3 linked regions of the Homo sapiens genome follow. The protein of the gene in region 2 interacts with the protein of the main gene of each other region in a pairwise test. Each region holds a gene or a part of one and is shown on either strand. Other genes may lie near its edges.

Region 1 (7,000 bases), on a different chromosome or scaffold from region 2:
GGCTGCTACCTCCAGCTCAAGCTTCATAACCTAATAGCCAAGGACCCCTGGCACAGAGTGCCTATTTTAAGGGGGAATGTTTTATCTAGCCTAACTTCCAGTTTAGAGGACATTCAGCAGTAACAGAGATAATGGGTAGAGGAAATGATAGCACAGGATCCATGTGCGACATGCTGCTAAACCTTGGGCAACAAGTAGGTTAATCTTTGTGGGACTCTGTTTCCACATTTTAAATGAGTCAGTGAAACTAGAGGGTTTCCATAGTTCTCCCAGCTCTATGAGAAGCTGTTATACTTCTTTTACAGAAAACCGTAGATCATCAGTGTTTGCTCTCAATAAAAGTAGTTCAAATGCATTTTTGTGCGGTACTGAGCATACTCCAGGCAGATAATGTGGACAATCAGTAAGTGTTTATAGTTTGTACAGGACATAGCACCAGTTACTAAAAAGCCACAACATCTCTTCAAAACAAAATTCCTAGTACTTCATGCAGCTGAATTTCAAACTTCAAATGAAGTTGAAGAAAACTCAGTCAAGACACATCATTGTTCTTGAACATACCCTGCCAATTTTCCTATGATCTCGGTTTTTAGCTTCCTCTTGGAACTTCTCCCACTCTTTCAACATTTTAGGATCTGGGAATGAAATGCCATAAATTCTCTGGAGAGTCTCCATATCTGCTTTGCCTTCCCAGTACGTGGAGGAATTCTGAAAACAAGGATTAACCATGAAACAACATTCAAATTTGTAAACATCTCACTTATTTTAACTCCCAATTGCTTTGAGGCCTTGTTAGAGTAGTTACTCATTCTGCAGCACAAAGTTGGCTGTTTTCTATCCTCAAAAATGCCCCTCCCTCAATCTGCAGGTGGGTGCAGTGGCTCATGCCTGTAATCCCAGCACTCTGTGAAGCCGAGGCAAGAGGATTGCTTGAGCCTGGGAGTTCGAGACCAGCCTGGGAAACACAGGGAGACCCCATTCTTTATTTAAAAAAAAGAAAATTACCCAGGCATGGTGGTGTGCGCTTATGGTCGCAGCTACTCAGGAGGCTAAGGCAGGAGGACTGCTTGAGCCTGGAGTGCAGTGGCACGATCTCCATTCACTGCAACCTCATTTCCCAGGCTCAAGTGGTCCTCCACTCTGTCTTTTTGGGGCAACAGAGTGAGACCCATTCTACACCCCAATACCCCCAAAACTGCCCACCCCTCAATACTCAACCACAATTCCACAAACATTACTTTGCCTGCAAAGGCATTTCTCACAAAATGAGCAAAAATAGAAATGAGCCAATAAAAAAAAAATCTTGAAATGACTCAATTATTCTCTTGATTTAAAGTGCATTTTAAAAACCTCCATAAAATGTTTATGAACTAGTATAAAACTGGGTTCTGTTAAAAACAACAACTTGGGAAATTATTAATTTAGACATATAAAGGGCAAAAGCACATACTCCCAGTGAGTCTCAAAGCTTTTATAGAGCCAGGATGGCCCATGCTGTATGATTTTGTAAAATCTCCATCCCCTGTGATTGCTCTGGCAATGACAGCAAGTCAGTCACCCCTTGAGGGATTTCAATTATAAAATCCTGATGGCATACAGCTCCCAGTTAATAGAGAGCATGAGAAAATACCATCCTTTCATGTGCAACAGAAAATGGTAAAGAGAAATCAGTGAAAGTTTAAACATATATCTATTCTAGACAGATACATTCACAGTCTTTAAAGTTACATTACTTACTTTGTGTATTTTTAAAGCCTTAATTTTGCCCGTGTGTCTAACATGAGGACCCCGGCAGAGATCTATCAAAGGGCCACATCTAAAGATAAAATGAAAGGAATTTTAACAAAGACAAAATGACATACATACCAGATACATTTAATGACATCTAATATTCTTACCTATAGACTGTGGTAGTTGGAGTATTCACCTTTTCATTCAATATCCGGCATTTGAACTTGTTGTACTGAAAACAGGAAAAATTATTATTTTAAAAAACTGTCCTTTAATTTTTACTTCTAAGTACTATAGCTAAAACGTAGCACTGTATGAATATAAATGTTGATACTTCATGTTTTAAAAACATGTTGAAGGAATGGTTTGCTAGGAAAAAAATGAAATTAAAAAAATAATAAAAACACTTAATTTTTGCTAAAGAACCAATTAGACTTCAGCTTAGTACACGGAACGCCAGTGGTGTCACTTCAACTAACATGAATAAATGATATTAACAGTGGGGGCCACGCACTATGGTTCAATTTACCTTAAACATTGCCAGTAAAGTTTCTTTCTTAACTTCCAGTCTTTCAAAAGCTTGTTTTTCTTTAATGATTTTCTTACACAAAGCCTCCAGAGAAGAGAAATCATTGCTAGACACACCCCTGAAGGAGAAGAAAGTATAATCTTTTCATTCCATTCGAATCACACCATGGCTTCGAAAAATGTTCATTTGGAAATAGTATTTGGAATACTTCAAGGGTTTTAATATTAAAAAATTAGACTATTGCATCGTATCTTAGAATTCTAAACAAAACATTTTTCATAAGTAATTTTTACATTTTATATTTTCAGTAGCTTCTACCTTGGTCATCCATGGAGACCTTTCTCACTAGTGACCCCTTCCCGCAACTCTATCACCAGGTTTTAAAGGAGAGGGGAGGACCAGTCTCCCTGAATTTCCCAAAATACCTTAGGACTCTACCTCCATCAATCTAGAACAGAGGTCTCATCAAATCCTCTATTACTTCAGGTAAATTGCAACACTTCAAGTACTGATAATGGGCATACCTGATGAAGAAGCAGTGAGATCTATATCATTCCTCCCTTACTGAGAACTCTTAAGAATAACTTATGGATCCATAGTCATTGACTTCAGTTTTCTTTATCTAGTTGATGGCTTACCCTTCTTCGAGGTACATGTCATAATAGAATCCATTTTCTATTGGCGGACCGTAGCATAAACATCCACCATAGACTCTTTCCATGGCTTCACCCATTATGTGAGCACTAGAGTGCCAATACACCTGAAAATTTAAAGAAAAATGGCATGGTCTGAGTCTTGGCATACAAGTTGCCAATTAATGTGGTTGTCTGAAAGAGACAGATGATAATATTTACTACAAGTAAACCCAATATATAAAATCCTAAATTTCTAAATCTATAAACTACTGTTTCTATCCATAGCCAAAGTAATTCAAAAGGCTTCCAATTACTAGTGTATTTTTATTTTGGAAATCATCTGGTTTAGCTGTTTTCAAACAAATTAAACTAAACTTGGCATCACTAATTAAATGACATAGACTTTGTTCTCTGAAAACAACTGCTACTCACAATGTGACTAACTCATTGATTGCAATGGCCCAGGTTCTTTTGAGTCAATGTGCCCACAGCACCATGTCTCAGACACTGTGATCTGGCCTTTAGCTGGCTATGGAACATCACTTAGAAATTACATGTTGTTACTGGCCCAAAACAAAGGTGGTACAACCCGACCCCACAACACAATGACAAAACACGAGGACAAACATCTGTACACTGAAATCAAATGGCAGTACTTGGTTTTAAAGTAATCACTGGGATGAGTCAGAATACACCCAAAGCAATGTTTTCAAGATTTAGTATTAAGGTACCAAAGTGACATTAAAAAATTCTCGTAAGAAACTTGAGGGCTCCAAAATACATTTGAAAACCACTAATCCACATACATAAGTGAACAATCATCACTAAAACAAAATACTTTGTCTCCCCTTATATGATACACAGCCATGGAGAATTAAAAAGAAAATCTTGTCATCACATGCAGGTTGACTTTTATAGTGTTATCCAGCAGATTTGCATCTTAAGATGAGAAAAAAATACAGAAATTATCCAATAAAGGCAGTGCTTTGAAGTAAGGTTCAAATTTATTTGTCAAATGTACATATCTTGCTAGAGTGTTCATAGCTTAGAGGCCAGGCACAGTGGCTCACACCTATAATCCCAGCACTTTGGGGGGCCGAGGTGGGCAGATCACTTGAGGTCAGGAGTTCAAGACCAGCCTGGCCAACATGGTGAAACCCCATCTCTACTAAAAATACAAAAATTAGCCAAGTGTGGTAGTGCGCTCCTATAATCCCAGCTACTTGGGAGGCTGAGGCAGGAGAATAGCTTGAACCTGGGAGGTGGAGGTTGTACTGAGGCAAGAGCGCACCACTGCACTACAGTCTGAGTGACAAAGCAAGACTCCATCATTAAAAAAAAAAAAAATTAAAATAAAATAGTGTTCACAGTTTAGAAAACAATTTTTACTTGCTTAATCAATGTTTAATACAATTCCCAAAACATTTTCCCTATTGAAGTGTCTAGTAATGAAAAGACTTATTCAGCTTCACCCCTTTATTTTCTAAGGCAAGCACTTTTATTATGTTCCCTAAATGAAGGACAAAATGAAGATTTCAAATATGACAGTGAGACAACAATAAATGTTAGCCACCCAATCGCAGCAGGACTGAGCTGGAAAAGACTTCAAATGTGAATCTGCATCCTAAAATTCAATGAATACTAATCAGCAACTTACTGCCTGAGCTTCCTCATCCTCAAACTTGAGAAGCTCCAAGGTACAATCTTCTTCCAGAGGGCGGTCCAGGTCCCACACAACATTATTTACTTTAGCAATAACGGTGTTGTCGGCCAGGCCTTGACTTAAAAAAAAAAAAAAAAAAAAAAGTCCACACATATATAAGTACACACGAATCTAATTTGAAAACAGGAAAATAAACACTATTTTTATTATATATTGTTTTTTTATATTGATGTATCTCTATTTTTCTGAAATATAATGATAAAAACAACAAATTCCAAAAATGTACCTAAGAACCTAACTGGAAGATCCTGAAAATGCAGAACATTATCATTTGACATTGAATGCCTCCTGTTTAAGCAGATATGGCAACTCTGATAAATAAGCACTATCAATTTCCAATGGTTTGAATAATCTTAATTTCTCCAACAAATAAGTTTTTTTTTTTTTAATTTTTTAGCGACAGGGTCTTGCTATGTTGCGCAGGCTGGCCTCCTGGCCTGAAGCAATCCTCCAACATCAGCCTCTAGAGTAGCTGGGACAACTGGCACAAGTCACCACACCGAGTTTTCTCTTAATACACCCACCTTTCTCTTTCTACAAAGCTAAGCTATGTAGACTCCAAAGGAAAAAAAAAAGGCCTACTAAATAACTTCTCTGTTCCTCTTCCTGCTTAAAATGTACACCAGATCCTTTCTTTGACAGACAATGCTAACCTCAGAATAAATTCTGCAAATGCCTATGATAATATTTATAACAAATATAGAGGTAAAATGAAAGACTATTTAATAAAACTTTCCATATAATGTGAGTAAAAACATTACACACCCAATATACAACATCGAACATAAAGTATCATCAAGTGATGAAATATCAGAGCACACAGAGTGTAAAAGCTACAGGAGTTCTGAGGAGGGAAAGCAGTACAGGTCAGAGTCATCTGGAAAGGCTTTGAGGATAAAGCACTCACAGGAAGAAAAGAGGAGGCCATGGCATTCCAGATGAGGGAATGGCCACAGATGCAAGCAGAGATGCAAGTGAAGAGAGGTTTTTGCAGGAAGCTGTGTGACTAGAGCAGAGTTGAGTAGGTGAGCCAGATTATACATCTAAATGCACAGCTAGAGAAATAATAGTCTATAACAGCCTGGACATCTCAACGAAGGTAGGCAACATTCTACACTGTGAAGAAAAAGTATACACCCTTTACACTGTAAATCTCAAAGAAACCTACCACTAGAAGGCTTTAAGCTAGCCAGGCTTGCTGTGTTGGTGGCTCTCTATGTCTAAGGGTTTACAACAAAATGTATACAACTCCTATCTGAGGATCAAGAGAAAAGAACCAAACAGAAAGTAAACAACAAACTCCTTTCTATTTTCAATGCTCCTACTAACTTTACCATAGGTTATAAACAATGTTTTCTTTCCTCCTGAGATCAGATGGAGTCAATAAAATAAATACATGCATTTCACAAAACATAACATGAATTTGGCAGAGAGAAATGTATTTCATCATATTGGTGTAAAACAGTTTTCAGGAGATTAAAGAACTGATAAAAAGGATAATCATATTCTCTATATTCTTTGGGAAGAACATGACTTTTATCTTATGATCCAATATGGAGCCCCAAGATTCTAAGAATAGAGTTACTCTGAAAATGTAGATTACACATGGGCCATACTGGATCATTTCAATTTTTCAAAGAAGGGTAAAATAATCTTTAAGATTTGTAACAAAACGGCCAGGCGCAGTGGCTCACGCCTGTAATCCCAGCACTTTGGGAGGCCGAGGCGGGTGGATCACGAGGTCAGGAGATCAAGACCATCCTGGCTAACACAGTGAAACCCCGTCTCTACTAAAAATACAAAAATTAGGCAGGCGTGGTGGCGGGCGCCTGTAATCCCAGCTACTCAGGAGGCCGAGGCAGGAGAATGGCGTCAACCCAGGAAGCGGAGCTTGCAGTGAGCCAAGATGGCGCCAATGCACTCCAGCCTGGGCGACAGAGCGAGACTCCTCCGTCTCAAAAAAAAAAAAAAAAGATTTATAACAAAACTTCAAAGAAAAACCTTTTGACGCAAATGGAACATGTCTTTTTTGTCCTTCCCTTTCATATTCACCACTAATTATGTGAATCTTTAAATAGCCTGTTATCAATGTTATAATTTTTCACAGAACAAAAAGTTATTCTGGACTTTTGTAAAAATTTCATAAAGTATTCTCAGTGCAGATCAGTGACTTAACTCCAGAGCTAAAGCCCATCAATGTTTTATGTAATTCAACCTTTTATTTTTTTCCCTGGAGACGGACTCTCGCTCTGTCACCAAGGCTGGAGTGCAGTGGCTCAATCTTGGCTCACTGCAACCTCCACCTCCCGAGTTCAAGCTATCCTCCCACCTCAGCCTCCAAGTAGTTGGGACTACAGGTGTGCGCCACCATGACTGGCTAAT
Region 2 (7,141 bases):
TCAATTTGTATGCTAGGAAGTGAGCATAGCCTTAGGAATGTATTATGCATATTAACAGATGAAACAAAACCGCCAATTTTGAGTAATATGATTAATTTTTTGAAAAGTTGTTTGTTAACTTATTAAGGTAGCAAATAGTCCTAGTGTTTTCAAATTGTGCTCTTTCTTTTCTAAAAACAATATATTTAACCTATTAAAAATAACTTCTAGAGTAAGAAAGCAGGTATATTTTTCATCAAAAATTGTATGCATTATAAGTTTGAGCAAAGAAGACTGATGTGTATATATCTTATCTGTATGCTTATACACAGATGTAAATGTATGTGTATGGACAGTCATCCCTTGCTATATGTGGGGGATTGGTTCCAGGAACTCTGCCTCTGAATATACTAGAACCTGCCTATATGAAAATTGGCACTCAAAACATGTGGGTGGGTTTCTCATCATGCAAATACTGTATTTTTTATTGCTTTTAGTTGGAAAAAAACTGCATATAAGTGAACCTGGCCAGCGCAAGTCTGTATTGTTCAAGGGTCAGTTGTGTACATGTACATATATATTCTTTTTCCTGGTAGAAGAATCAGAAAATAAATCTTTATTAAACAAGGCAAATTCTCATTGTGATAGATACGTGAATATAATTTCCCAGAAATTTTATCTCAAATCATATGAAAATTGATGCCATTTCATGACATCTAATTATGATGTAGACATAAAGAAGACAAGCTCAATATCTGGATTCTATGGCTTCTCCAACCTCAATAGAAAAAAAGCACTTGCTGTTCTAATATTGAAGGTAGTCTTTATATCCCCTCTCTAGGGGGTTAAGAACATACTTTTGTGGTCAGATTGATCTGAGGTTTATCCAGGCTACACCATTCCCTGAATACATTAATTAACCTGCCAAAGCTCTGATTACATCACTGGCAAAATAGATAATATAATAACACCTGTGGCAAAAGTTTCTGGGGAGGATTATGGTAAATTATATGTAAGCATTTAGGATATTTTCTCACAATAAATAATGCATACAGAAGTAAAAAGCATTATTAGTCTAAATAGTTTGACCTTCCTTCCTTCCTTCCATTCTTCCGTTCTTCCTTCCTTCCTTCCCTGATGTATCCAGTAAACATTTAGAGTACTCATTCGTTAATTTGCATATAGAAAAACTTCTTCATGAATAACTATATACAGCACATATTCTTTAAAAGATTCAAAGGTAAATGATACATATCTTTGACTCAAGAAGCTCACAATGTAGTGCAAGGGGCATGTACATGAATGAATGCTGAAAGAAGTTAAGTATGAACAAATGTGCCAGGCACACTGAATCTTGAAAGATGCCATATTAGATAAATCAATGTTATTATTATGAGGGTGGGATAGATTATGTCCAATGTTTGGTCGTATGTCCTAAATTATAACAAATAGAAAAACCTGGCCTTTGGCCAGCATTTATCAAAAGTTCTTTTTTGAAGTAAATGTGTTTGCGTATATTATAAAATTTATATGCAGATCAGATCACTGGAATGATTTATATATAACTTTTAATTGCTTAAATCTGTGTTCTCCTCTGTTTTTAATGACATCCTTACGGATGCATTAGCCCCAGTATGTTTATGTTGAACCCTTATTCAACCCTATGTTGAATTCCAGAGCTATTGACATCTGGTGAACATAGAACAAAATGTAACAACTAGGGAAAAAAGCATATCTATAGGAATGTTTTTCTTTTAAAAGACTTGGAAGTTTTATCAAACCACTGTGGATTAATATAGCTTGTAATTTAATATGATGTATTACTATTTCATAAAATAGTGAGATGTTTTTCTCTAAAAATATTGGCAGTACATTAAAAGTTTATTCATTTTCCAAACACATATTTATAAATACCCAAGTATGAGAGACTAAATTTAAATTTTTATCCTCAAAGATTTACTTTAAAAAACATGGTTCCAGGATGTTATATATTTGATATTAATGTTATTATTCCCACCTAAATTACAAATAAAGAACAAGCCTAGTGAATTTAGGAAAAACAACTGTCATCTCCATATCATAGCATCCTTGTTTATAAATTCTAGGAAATGATACTTATCAACTTTTTATTTCACAGTTTTGCTGTGCTGATGACTAATTTTTTGTCTAGTTTCCAAAAATTACTTTGTGAAATAAAATATGCCTGACTATTGATCCAAGTGCTCAGTGATAATCTCATGACCTACGACCATTAGAAACAGTAAAATTATCACTCTTGGGAAACTATTGTAAAGCCCAGGAATTTAAACAAGAAAATTAGTCTTTCTCAGAATGCCTCTTCAAATGTCAGACTCTATTTAATTATAAACCACCTTTCCAGATGTAAAAAATTATTCAAATTTTAAAAGCCTGAAAAATTTAAAGGTTAATACAATTTAAAGACTGTTTGAATTCATTCAAATAAAAGGAAGGTCTTTCTTTAGGCCTTCTAATCTTTTCCTTTGGTATATACTGATTTCTTCTTATGGAAATATTTTATTCTTTCCTATGTTTTTTTATTTACCTTTAGGGACGGCTGGTGACTGGAAGAATTACTTCACCGTGGCCCAAAATGAGAAATTTGATGCTATTTATGAGACAGAAATGTCCAAAACTGCACTTCAATTCCGCACAGAGATTTAAAGTGTCTAAATCACACATCTGAAGAAATAAGAGATTGTCTGTAGTTGATTGAAACGAGGGCAGTTATGAATTGATTTGGGCAATCAAATGAATTTATAAAGGAGAATAATATGCTTTTAATATGTTGATTCTTTTCAATGTTATTAATCAGATCCCAGTTTTGTTCCTTTGATTCTGAGTTTCCAAATTCTCTAAGGCTAAAGTTCATTGTTAACTTTTTGTAACAAAGGAACAATGTAACCACAGGCTCTTCCTGCCTTTTTCTACACTAGTACTGATAAGAAAGAAGGGATTTATTTTACTTAATCTCCCATATATTATGATTTAGAATTAAGTTCCCCTCCCTAGTACCATGGTCCAAGAAATGCTGTTTTCATAATGAGACTATATTTCCTAACTCTGCCCCAATTTCCCTTTGCCGAAAATTTGACCCAGGACACTGTGTTCCACTGCTGTCTACCGAGTTTCAAGTTGTTCTCTGAGTCATAGCTCATCTTCCTGCAGTGCCTCTATTTGGATAACAAAGTTCATGTCCCCGATCATGTAGTTCAGATTTTGGAAATCTTTTTTCTATATCATACCTAATGTCTAAGTCTCCGAAAGGCAAACGCCTACAATAGTCTCTGTAGGATTGGTTACCTGGGAACTGGAGCTCTGTTCTGAAAAGCAGCCCTGAGGGCTGTGACCTACTTCTTATGGGGAGTCCTCTTTTTCCCAACAGACCCGTTTGAACTTCAGAGAAATCACCTACTGCTGTGTTCTGGTCACCATTTGGGAACTTCAGTTACTTAATCTTATATTTGGATAGATTTGGATACCTTAATAGCACCTTTAATATCCTAGACATGATCATAACCTCTGCAAAATATTTCCCAATCTGGTGCCCAAGGAAGACTCTCTAGGCTGAATCTCCACTCTGCCCTCTTGACCCAATGTTCCTTCTACTTATTATTACATGCTTATATCTATTTGTGTGGTCTCTGATCTATGTTTTCTTGGAACATTTATATATATATATATATATATATATATATATATATATATATATATATATGTACATTTTATTATTATACTTTAAGTTCCAGGTTACATGTGCACAATGTGCAGGTTTGTTATATATGCATACATGTGCCATGTTGGTGTGCTGCATCCATTAACTCGTCATTTACATTAGGTATACCTCCTAATGCTATCCTTCCCCCCTCCCTCCACCCCACAACAGGCCCCAGTGTGTGATGTTACCTTTCCTGTGTCCAAGTGTTCTCATCGTTCAATTCCCACCAATGACTAAGAACATGAGGTGTTTGGTTTTTTTGTTCTTGCAATAGTTTGCTGAAAAGTATGGTTTCCAGCTTTATCCATGTCCCTACAAAGGACATGAACTCATCATTTTTTATGGCTGCACAGTATTCTATGGTGTATATGTGCCACATTTTCTTAATCCAGTCTATCATTGATGGACATTTGGGTTGGTTCCAAGTCTTTGCTATTGTGAATAGTGCCGCAATAAATATACGTGTGCATGTGTCTTTATAGCAGCATGATTTATAATCCTTTGGGTATATACCCAGTAATGGGATGGCTGGGTCAAATGGTATTTCTAGTTCTAGATCTCTGAGGAATTGCCACACTGTCTTCCACAATGGTTGAACTAGTTTACACTCCCACCAAAAGTGTAAAAGTGTTCCTATTTCTCCACATCCTTTCCAGCACCTGTTGTTTCCTGACTTTTTAATGATTGCCATTCTAACTGGTGTGAGATGGTATCTCATTGTGGTTTTGATTTGCATTTCCCTGATGGCCAGTGATGATGAGCATTTTTTCATGTGTCTGTTGGCTGCATAAATGTCTTCTTTTGAGAAGTATCTGTTCATATTCTTTGCACACTTGTTGATGGGGTTGTTTTTTTTTTCTTGTAAATTTGTTTGAGTTCTTTGTAGATTCTGGATATTAGCCCTTTGTCAGATGAGTAGATTGCAAAAATTTTCTCCCATTCTGTAGGTTGCCTGTTCACGCTGATGGTAGTTTCTTTTGCTGTGCAGAAGCTCTTTAGTTTAATTAGATCCCATTTGTCAATTTTGGCTTTTGTTGCCATTGCTTTTGGTGTTTTAGACATGAAGTCCTTGCCCATGCCTATGTCCTGAATGATATTGCCTAGGTTTTCTTCTAGGGTTTTTATGGTTTTAGGTCTTACATTTAAGTCTTTAATCCATCTTGAATTAATTTTTGTATAAGGTGTAAGGAAGGGATCCAGGTTCTGCTTTCTACATATGGCTAGCCAGTTTTCCCAGCACCATTTATTAAATAGGGAATCCTTTCCCCATTGCTTGTTTTCGTCAGGTTTGTCAAAGATCAGATAATTGTAGATGTGTAGTATTATTTCTGAGGGCTCTGTTCTGTTCCATTGGTCTATATCTCTGTTTTGGTCCAGTACCATGCTGTTTTGGTTACTGTAGCCTTGTAGTATAGTTTGAAGTCAGGTAGTATGATGCTTCCAGCTTTGCTCTTTTGGCTTAGGATTGACTTGGCAATGCGGGCTCTTTTTTGGTTTCTTATGAACTTTAAAGTAGTTTTTTCCAATTCTGTGAAGAAAGTCATTGGTAGCTTAATGGGGATGGCATTGAATCTATAAATGACCTTGGGCAGTATGGCCATTTTCATGATATTGATTCTTCCTATCCATGAGCATGGAATGTTCTTCTATTTGTTTGTATCCTCTTTTATTTCATTGAGCAGTGGTTTGTAGTTCTCCTTGAAGTGATCCTTCACATCCCTTGTAAGTTGGATTCCTAGGTATTTTATTCTCTTTGAAGCAATTGTGAATGGGAGTTCACTCCTGATTTGGCTCTCTGTCTGTTATTGGTGTATAAGAATGCTTGTGATTTTTGTACATTGATTTTGTATCCTGAGACTTTGCTGAAGTTGCTTATCAGCTTAAGGAGATTTTGGGCTGAGACAATGGGGTTTTCTACATATACAATCATGTCATCTGCAAACAGGGACAATTTGACTTCCTCTTCTCCTAATTGAATACCCTTTATTTCTTTCTCCTGCCTGATTGCCCTGGCCAGAACTTCCAACACTATGTTGAATAGGAGTGGTGAGAGACGGCATCCCTGTCTTGTGCCAGTTTTCAAAGGGAATGCTTCCAGGTTTTGCCCATGCAGTATGATATTGGCTGGTGGTTTGTCATAGAGGGCTCTCCTTATTTTGAGATACATTCCATCAATACCTAATTTATTGAGAGTTTTTAGCATGAAGGCTGTTGAATTTTGTCAAAGGCCTTTTCTGCATCTATTGAGATAATCATGTGGTTTTTGTCTTTGGTTCTGTTTATATGCTGGATTACATTTATTGATTTGCATATGTTGAACCAGCCTTGAATCCCAGGGATGAAGCCCACTTGATCATGGTGGATAAGCTTTTTGATGTGCTGCTGGATTCGGTTTGCCAGTATTTTATTGAGGATTTTTGCATCAATGTTCATCAGGGTTATTGGTCTAAAATTCTCTTTTTTTGTTGTGTCTCTGCCAGGCTTTGGTATCAGGATGATGCTGGCCTCATAAAATGAGTTAGGGAGGATTCCCTCCTTTTCTGTTCATTGGAATAGTTTCAGAAGGAATGGTACCAGCTCCTCCTTGGACCTCTGGTAGAATTCAGCTGTGAATCTATCTGGTCCTGGACTTCTTTTGGTTGGTAAGCTATTAATTATTGCCTCTATTTCAGAGCATGTTATTTTTCTATTCAGAGATTCAACTTCTTCCTGGTTTATTCTTGGGAGGGTGTATGTGTCGAGGAATTTATCCATTTCTTCTAGATTTTCTAGTTTATTTGCGTAGAGGTGTTTTTAGTATTCTCTGACGGTAGTTTGTATTTCTGTGGGATCATCGGTGGTGATATCCCCTTTATCTTTTTTTATTGCATCTATTTGATTCTTCTCTCTTTTCTTCTTTATTAGTCTTGCTGGTGGTCTATCAATTTTGTTGATCTTTTCGAAAAACCAGCTCCTGAATTCACTGATTTTTTGAAGGGGTTTTTGTGTCTTTGTCTCCTTCAGTTATGCTCTGATCTTAACTCCAGCTTGGCATTAGAAGTAGTTGTTTATATCCCCATGTGCAGCAAAGTCTTTTTCCTGAGATCATATCACATGTGCCAAGTTATATGCCAAGCCATGGTTCTCAAGCTGAAGGTACAGTACCCTGGGCCCTTACTTGTTCTGAAAGGGGTGGGGGTGGTGGTTTTGGACATACTGTTAGACTTTCTGAGCCACAACTGAGGTAGCTATGGCTTATCGTATTTTGACTTCACAGGTGAATCTCCGCTGTCAGCCAGGAATAGCCAGGAATAGCTAAAATAGCTCCTTAAGCTGTAACATTTCTCTTTTCCAACCCCAGCAAAGGATTGGTCTAGTGGTAACAACAAACCTCATAGAAGTAGTACACCTATTATTCTGGAGATACTTGCTTCTATAGATTTATTA
Region 3 (6,882 bases), on a different chromosome or scaffold from region 2:
TTTGCAGATCTGTATTCCTTCCACAGGGATTTTATGGTGTTTCTAGAAATATAAGTTGTTCTTGGAACATGCTAGTATATGTACAAGTAAACTTTACAAATACGTGAAAAGACCCATGTTAACTTTAAAAAGGTGTTATTGTCTGAATCTTTGTGTCACCCCAAAATTGTTATGTTAAAATCTTAACCCCCAAGGTGATGGTATTAGGAGGTGGGGCTTTTGGGAGGTGAGTAGGTCATAAGGGCAGAGCCCTCATGATGAGATTAGTGCCAAATTAAAGAGGCCCAAGGGAGCTCCTTGCCCCTTCTGCCACATGAGGGCACAGTGAAAAGGTGCCGTTTACGAACCAGGACACAGCCCTTACCAGACACCAAATCTGCCAGCACCTTGATCTTGGACTTCCCAGCCTCCAGAACTGGGAGAGATAAATTTCTGCTGTTTATAAGCCCCCCACTCTGTGGTATTCTGTTATAGCAGCCCAAACATAGTAAGACAAAGAGTAACATGAAAAAAGTGCTCTGCCATAGTTTTAGCATCACTGTTTTAATTTCATGAAATACAAGTACAAAACATTGTATAAGTATACTTTTTACTACATGGAGATGAACTAATACATTTATGTTTTTATCAGAATCTGTATCACCCAGCGCTGGTCAATGTACTAGTAGCTTTCCACAGGGATTTTTTATACTATTCCTATAAGGTTTTATCATGAATAAAAAAGCTCACAACTCTTTTCAGCCATTGCAGATTCACATTTATCTTAATATTCCTGTTCAAGATGCTCTGGAGAACTGTTAAGAACTACAAAATCACCTTAGGCAGAGTTTTGAATGAGTAATTTTATTTCACGTTGGCCAAGATCTCCCTTATGTTGGCATTGCAAAGACACTGCACTTATCTGAGGTTAGAAAAAATGTAGTCTTAATAGCCCTCTTAATGTGTAGCAAGGCAAATTACCATTTCCTAAAATGTCCAGAATATCATAGTAGTTAGTTATTCGTTAAGCAGTAAGTCATGAAACTCCACTTATAGAAGACAATAGCAACAGAGGACCACTAAGTCCTAAATATACCAAAGAAAAACAAGTTTACAAATATTCAAACTGTCTGTCTTCTCTACCTCTAAAATGGTTTAACCACATCAAGTGAGAGTAACATCAGCCAATTAGAAAGGGAAAAAGTAAACTGTGCTAGCGTCCGGCATTCAGCTTCCATAGCATGTCTCACAGTTTTCGGCCATTTCAGCTAAGAGTTTTCTTATGACAGGCAAAAATAATGATTAAAATACCATTAGCTTTGCTGAGAAATGTGGAAAAAAAAATCACAATGTCAAAAATATTTGAAACTAATTTTGTTTTTATAAATAAATAAAATGGTGTTTATCTTTTCTTAAAATTCTTGCTGTTAAAACATTCAAAGTTATGTCAACCTGTAAGGATAAAGGGGTATTTAAGATAACATGTTTGGAAAACTAAACCACATTTTTAATTGCCAGCATTATGCTTTGTTCTTGGTAGAGTCATCCTTGTTTCTTCTTTTTACATCCCAATTATAAACCCTGGCCATATCTGCAAGAATTGTCAAAGAAAATGCAAATGCAATTCTAAAGATAATGCATGCAATGACTAAGTATTCACTCCACTCACACAATGAATCAAAGACACAGAAATGAAACATATACAAATACTGGTAACAAATAGTATTGTAAGACATCCTGCTATAATGTCAATTGTTAGGAAAATACTATAATTAAACTCTATCAAAACTAAGGACTCAAATTAATTGTTAACCCATTGTTTACTATGGTATTAGTCAACTGTCAGCTAGTCAACTATGATATATTTAACAAATATGTACTAGACACTCTCGATAGTTTTAAAGACAGTCCCTCATCCAAGAAATCTGAAAGATCACTCAACCCATATCCTGCCATGTAATATTTATATTATTACAATTATCAATAATTTTATCTCTTACCCTCCCTTTGGCTTAACAAGTTTATTAAGCATCTACTGTATTTTTGACTAGGCACTGTACAAAGCCCTGACCTGAATAAGACAGGTGAAGTTCTTTTCCTCGTGGAGCTTAGACTCCAGTAGAATGTCAATGTAACAGAGACTGTCCACCCTAGCTCCCTCACTTGTCTGCACACCTTCCTTTCCTACCTTTTGCAGTACTAGCAATAACAAATGGCATTTAACTAAGCTTGTAGGACTCATCTTAGAGGATTTCCTCACTTTTGGCTCCTGTACCCATCTAAGTCACTGGATCCTGTTTTTTTCTCACACGTTTAATATCTTTTCCTTTCCACAAGCCACCCGTCCTAGGCCCTCGTCATCTCATAGCTGGATGAAGTTTCCACACTACCCGTCAGATGATGATGACCACTGCACTAGGCCCCAACAGGCCTGCCTTCCCTCAGCCAACCATAAACAACTGCCACATGCTGCACACTGGAAAAGAAGAGAAAGTGCAGCTCCTACATCTGAAGAGCTCACGGTTTGGCAAGGTAAAACTAAGCAGTATGTGTTAAGCAAGCACACAAGAAACACTCTGAGGATCAGAAAATGTTCAGGAAAGCTCTGATGCTTGGACTGAGATATTTAGGGTAAAAGGGTAAAAAAAGAGCACATCCTGTAAATATGGGAAAGTCATTCCAGTTAGGAGGAACAAAGTGTAGAAATGCAAAGGGTGTGGCACAATTGGGGAGTGTGTACAATAACTGACTGGGGTTATCTGGAACCTGGAATGCACTGGGGAAAGGCAAGAAGAGGTCAGTGGCATGAGGTGAGACAAGCTGGGGGCACTTCACAAGAGTGCCTATATGTATATCTTGTAAGTAACAAGGAACCGTTGAAATATTGTAACCAGAGGAATAAAAATGAGTGACCTAGTAAATTCATACTAGAGATAGTGGGAAGGACAGATGGAATGAGAGGAACCTAAAAAGGTTCTGAGTGCAGGTTTTGGAGCCCCAGAACGAGAACAGTAATGGGCAGAGAGATTTATGAGGGAAATTTGATGTGAATCTGGCGACTGATTTATTATTGGTAGTGAGGAAGAGAGAAGTGTGAAAGGTGACTCCCGTGATTTTGTCTTGAGTGACTGTGACAGGAAGTAGGAGGAAAAGACAGGCCAGAGAAGAAAGGCAAAGAGCTTGCCTTCCCCCTTGACCAGAATACCCCACTCCCACCTCTTCTCTCTGCTGATCTTTAAACCCTACGCCGCCTTTAAAAAAGCAGCCTAACTTTTATCTTCTCAACAAAGCCTTCTTTGAACTAAGTCCAGCCTACATCTATCTTTCCCAAAGTTTAAATTGCCTTGGTGTTGCATATGTTAACTTACTTATAGTTTGCTATGAATTATCATTCAGCTGTTTTACATGTACAGTTCTACCAGAGAAAGGCACTGCCACTCTTTTCTAAAATTGATTTTCATGCCCCATATGTCTTAGCACAGTTGCAGGAACATAGGAGACCCTTAAATGCTTGTGAAATTAAACTATTTAACCAGTTATAAAGTTGTCTTGGGAAAATATTTGGAAGAAAAATACTTACTCACCTATGTGAATTTGCTGTTTCCACATCACATTTCAAAATCACTAATCTATCTACAAACTTATTTAAGTACTAGTTCCGAATATCTTATTTATTATCTTATAAAATCTATAACCTTTATATTAGCCTAATAAGGAAATTCTTCCCACTAAAGCAATGTAAGAAAGAATGTGGGAGGTTTTTTGTATTCTAATTTTTTTTTAGTTCTAGGGTACATGTGCAGGATGTGCAGGTTTGTTACAAAGGTAAACGTGTGCCATGGTGGTTTGCTGCACCTATCAACCCATCACCTAGGTATTAAGCCCAGCATGCATCAGCTATTTTTCCTAATGCTCTCCCTCTGCCCATGAAAGAATGTTTTTTTAAAAAAATCTTTCTCCTTTTTTCCCTTGCTTTTTGTTTTAAGAAAGGATACTGACTTCTGTGGTAGTAAATTGATCTCGAAGAAAGTCAAGGTCTTCCTCCAGGGAATCAAGATTCTTTGTGGCAGTCGATAAATTCTTTTCCAACAATGCCTGAGCTTCATCAATATCATATTCAAGCATTACATTAGCCTGAAGAGAGAAAGTCATGACAATTACTCAATATTTACACAGAGCTTTATAGGTTAGAGTAAAGTGTGGGCAAACTACAGCCCTCAGGTCAAATCCAGCTTGCTGCCTTTTGTTGTAAGTTAAGTTTCACTGGAGCCCAGCTATTCTCTACTCAGGCTTTCATACCACAATGGCAAAACTGAGTGGTTGAGACAGAGACCATGTGATCTACAAAACCAAAAATATTTACCATTTGACCTTTTACAGAAAGTTTGCTGACCCCTTGGTTAAAGAATATATTTACATACATTGTATCATTTAATCCTCAACCCTGCTGAGGCCAAAGTTGTCTTCTTCACAGTTAAAGAAATGAAGGCTCAGGTTTCCTTAGCTGGCATAGCTAGTGGGTAAATGGGAGAATCAGGATAAGAAACCAGTATGTTTAGATACAAAATCCTATCTTTCTACTACCTCCATCGTGAAACTAAATAGTGTTGTTTGTATCAATTTAAATAAATTCTGAGCTTGAGATATGATATTAATTTAAAATTTTTCAAAGACATTTATTATCATCTATATTTGACCAGGTAAAAAAGACAGCTAGCTTTTACCTGTCCCTTCCTACTACTTCTGACAGATGTTAGGGATTAAGACAAGGTAATGTGTCTGTCATTCTGAAGATCTAGTGTTACTGCCAACATTCAGGGATGCATGTACCCTGGAATTGGGAAGCCACACCTTTTACAGCTTTGAACTCTCCCTATCACCTGACTTACCACTGGCATTTCCTAAACCACTTTCCTCATCTCACAAATGCAATTTTAAAATTACTCAAAGGATTGTTGTAAGGATTAAACAAGACAACATGAAAGTATTTGGCACAAAGTAAATGCCAAATAAATACTTATTGACCAAATAATCCAATCCATAATTAGAAAACTGTATTAAAATTCAGATAGGACAAAAATATTCAACATAAGCAAAGACTGAACATAAATATAACAAGAATCCACAAAGAAAAAAAAACCAAAGCAGGGGACCAAAAAAATTTCTAAATCCTTCATTTCAACAAAATGTTCCTGAAATGTGACACATGCACATACTACACACACACACACACACACACACACACATACACACACACACACTGGGTGAAATGACACGCAAAATGAAATGAAAGGGTACTTTGTATACCTGGGGGAAACTGACCCAAAAGTCCTTTGAGCATCCAGGCAAAAAGAACACATCACTCATAGAAGAAAGAAATCAGTTTGCCCTCACACTTTTTGACAGTGATGCTTTACAACAAAAGAAAATGGGGCACTGTATAAGATGCTCAAGGAAATAAAATGTGAGTTTAAGATATTATATCCAGCAAAACTGAATTTCAAGTACAAAGGCCACAGACAAGTTGTCAGCAACATGAGATAACTCAGGGAATATCATTCCCATAAATCTTAAGGCAATCTACTTATCAGACGAATGAGTAACATACAATCAAAATGACTGGATGATGACTGGGGGGACATCAACATAAAGACTATGATGTGCATTCAATATTTACACGAAGAACTAGGATAAATGAAAGATGAGAGAGAGAAAGAGAGAGAGCAAACAGTATATAATGGCTCTGTGCTCCAACAATGTGGGAACAACCTTATAAAGAATGTGTAAGGACAGGAAGAACATATGCAAAAATGTCAGTGGTAACAGTGTTGGGTGGTGTTATTCTAAGAATGCTTTGCGTGTGAATAGTAATGTTGTCTAGCTTAATTCTATCACCCTTGGTATTTCTGAAAACCAGGATTCTTGATATAGAAGAAACAGGGGGGCCAGGCGCGGTGGCTCACACCTGTAATCCCAGCACTTGGCAGGCTGAGATGAGTGGATCACTTGAGGTCAGGAGTTCAAGGCCAGCCTAGCCAACATGGCGAAACCCCGTCTCTACTAAAAATACAAAAATTAGCTGGGCGTGGTGGCACGTGCCTGTAATCCCAGCTACTCAGGAGGCTGAAGGAGGAGAATCACTTGAACCCAGGAGGCGGAAGTTGCAGTGACCCAAGATCACGTCACTGCGCTCCAGCCCGGGCGACAGAACAAGACTCTGTCTCAAAAAAAAAAAAAAAAAAAAAAAAAAAAACAGAGGAACAACTAAAGTGAAAACTCTGTTGTCCTGAATTTGAATTGGAGGTAACAGTATGAAACCATGAGGTACACACATATTAACCTGAACCTTTGCACACAAGTTTATGCAGGTTAGCTATATCCTACTGGTTCTATTTCTCCGGTTGAACCCTGACAACAGATTCGTTCACTTACACTTTGCTTTATGCAGTTTTCTGATTTTTTTGTTTATATTTAATATTATATACATATAGAAAAGTATTCATATCATAAATATATAGCTTGATGTATTTTCACAAACTTAACACACTCATGGAACCAGCATCCAGATCAAGGACAGGTTATCACCAACACCCCAAAGCTTCCTTGTGAACATTTTCAGTTACCACCAGCACCCCCACCGCAAAGGTAACCATTAACCTGACTTACAGCATAGTTTTGCCTGTATTACAACTTTACATAAACAGAATGACACAGTATATGTGCTCTTTTGTGACTGACTTCTATAGTAGGCAAGAATTATGGCTCCCATAACAGCTGTCTCATTCTAATCTCTGGAATCTGTGACTCTGATGAGATATTTACATCATTTGTCAGAGCTGACCTTAATATACAGACTGCCTAGGTAGGCCTAATCTAGTTATATGAGCCCTTAAGAGCAGAGAA

Evidence for each region.
Region 1: the proteins of SULT1B1 (region 2) and TARS1 interact in binary tests that used the Homo sapiens proteins (3 or more experiments, as listed by UniProt).
Region 3: the proteins of SULT1B1 (region 2) and VBP1 interact in binary tests that used the Homo sapiens proteins (3 or more experiments, as listed by UniProt).

Annotation. Positions count from the first base shown.
Region 1 is NC_000005.10:33,450,965-33,457,964, reverse strand, and holds part of TARS1 (threonine--tRNA ligase 1, cytoplasmic), read right to left. Parts: intron 5,625-7,000; coding exon of another isoform or gene 5,526-5,624; intron 4,677-5,525; coding exon 4,553-4,676; intron 3,021-4,552; coding exon 2,899-3,020; intron 2,379-2,898; coding exon 2,261-2,378; intron 1,964-2,260; coding exon 1,899-1,963; intron 1,817-1,898; coding exon 1,738-1,816; intron 709-1,737; coding exon 562-708; intron 1-561. UniProt on the Homo sapiens protein: Catalyzes the attachment of threonine to tRNA(Thr) in a two-step reaction: threonine is first activated by ATP to form Thr-AMP and then transferred to the acceptor end of tRNA(Thr).
Region 2 is NC_000004.12:69,722,608-69,729,748, reverse strand, and holds part of SULT1B1 (sulfotransferase 1B1), read left to right. Parts: intron 1-2,548; coding exon 2,549-2,661; 3' UTR 2,662-7,141. UniProt on the Homo sapiens protein: Sulfotransferase that utilizes 3'-phospho-5'-adenylyl sulfate (PAPS) as sulfonate donor to catalyze the sulfate conjugation of dopamine, small phenols such as 1-naphthol and p-nitrophenol and thyroid hormones, including 3,3'-diiodothyronine, triidothyronine (T3) and reverse triiodothyronine (rT3).
Region 3 is NC_000023.11:155,233,460-155,240,341, reverse strand, and holds the end of VBP1 (prefoldin subunit 3), read right to left. Parts: intron 4,114-6,882; coding exon 3,975-4,113; intron 1,571-3,974; coding exon 1,500-1,570; 3' UTR 501-1,499; downstream 1-500. UniProt on the Homo sapiens protein: Binds specifically to cytosolic chaperonin (c-CPN) and transfers target proteins to it. Binds to nascent polypeptide chain and promotes folding in an environment in which there are many competing pathways for nonnative proteins.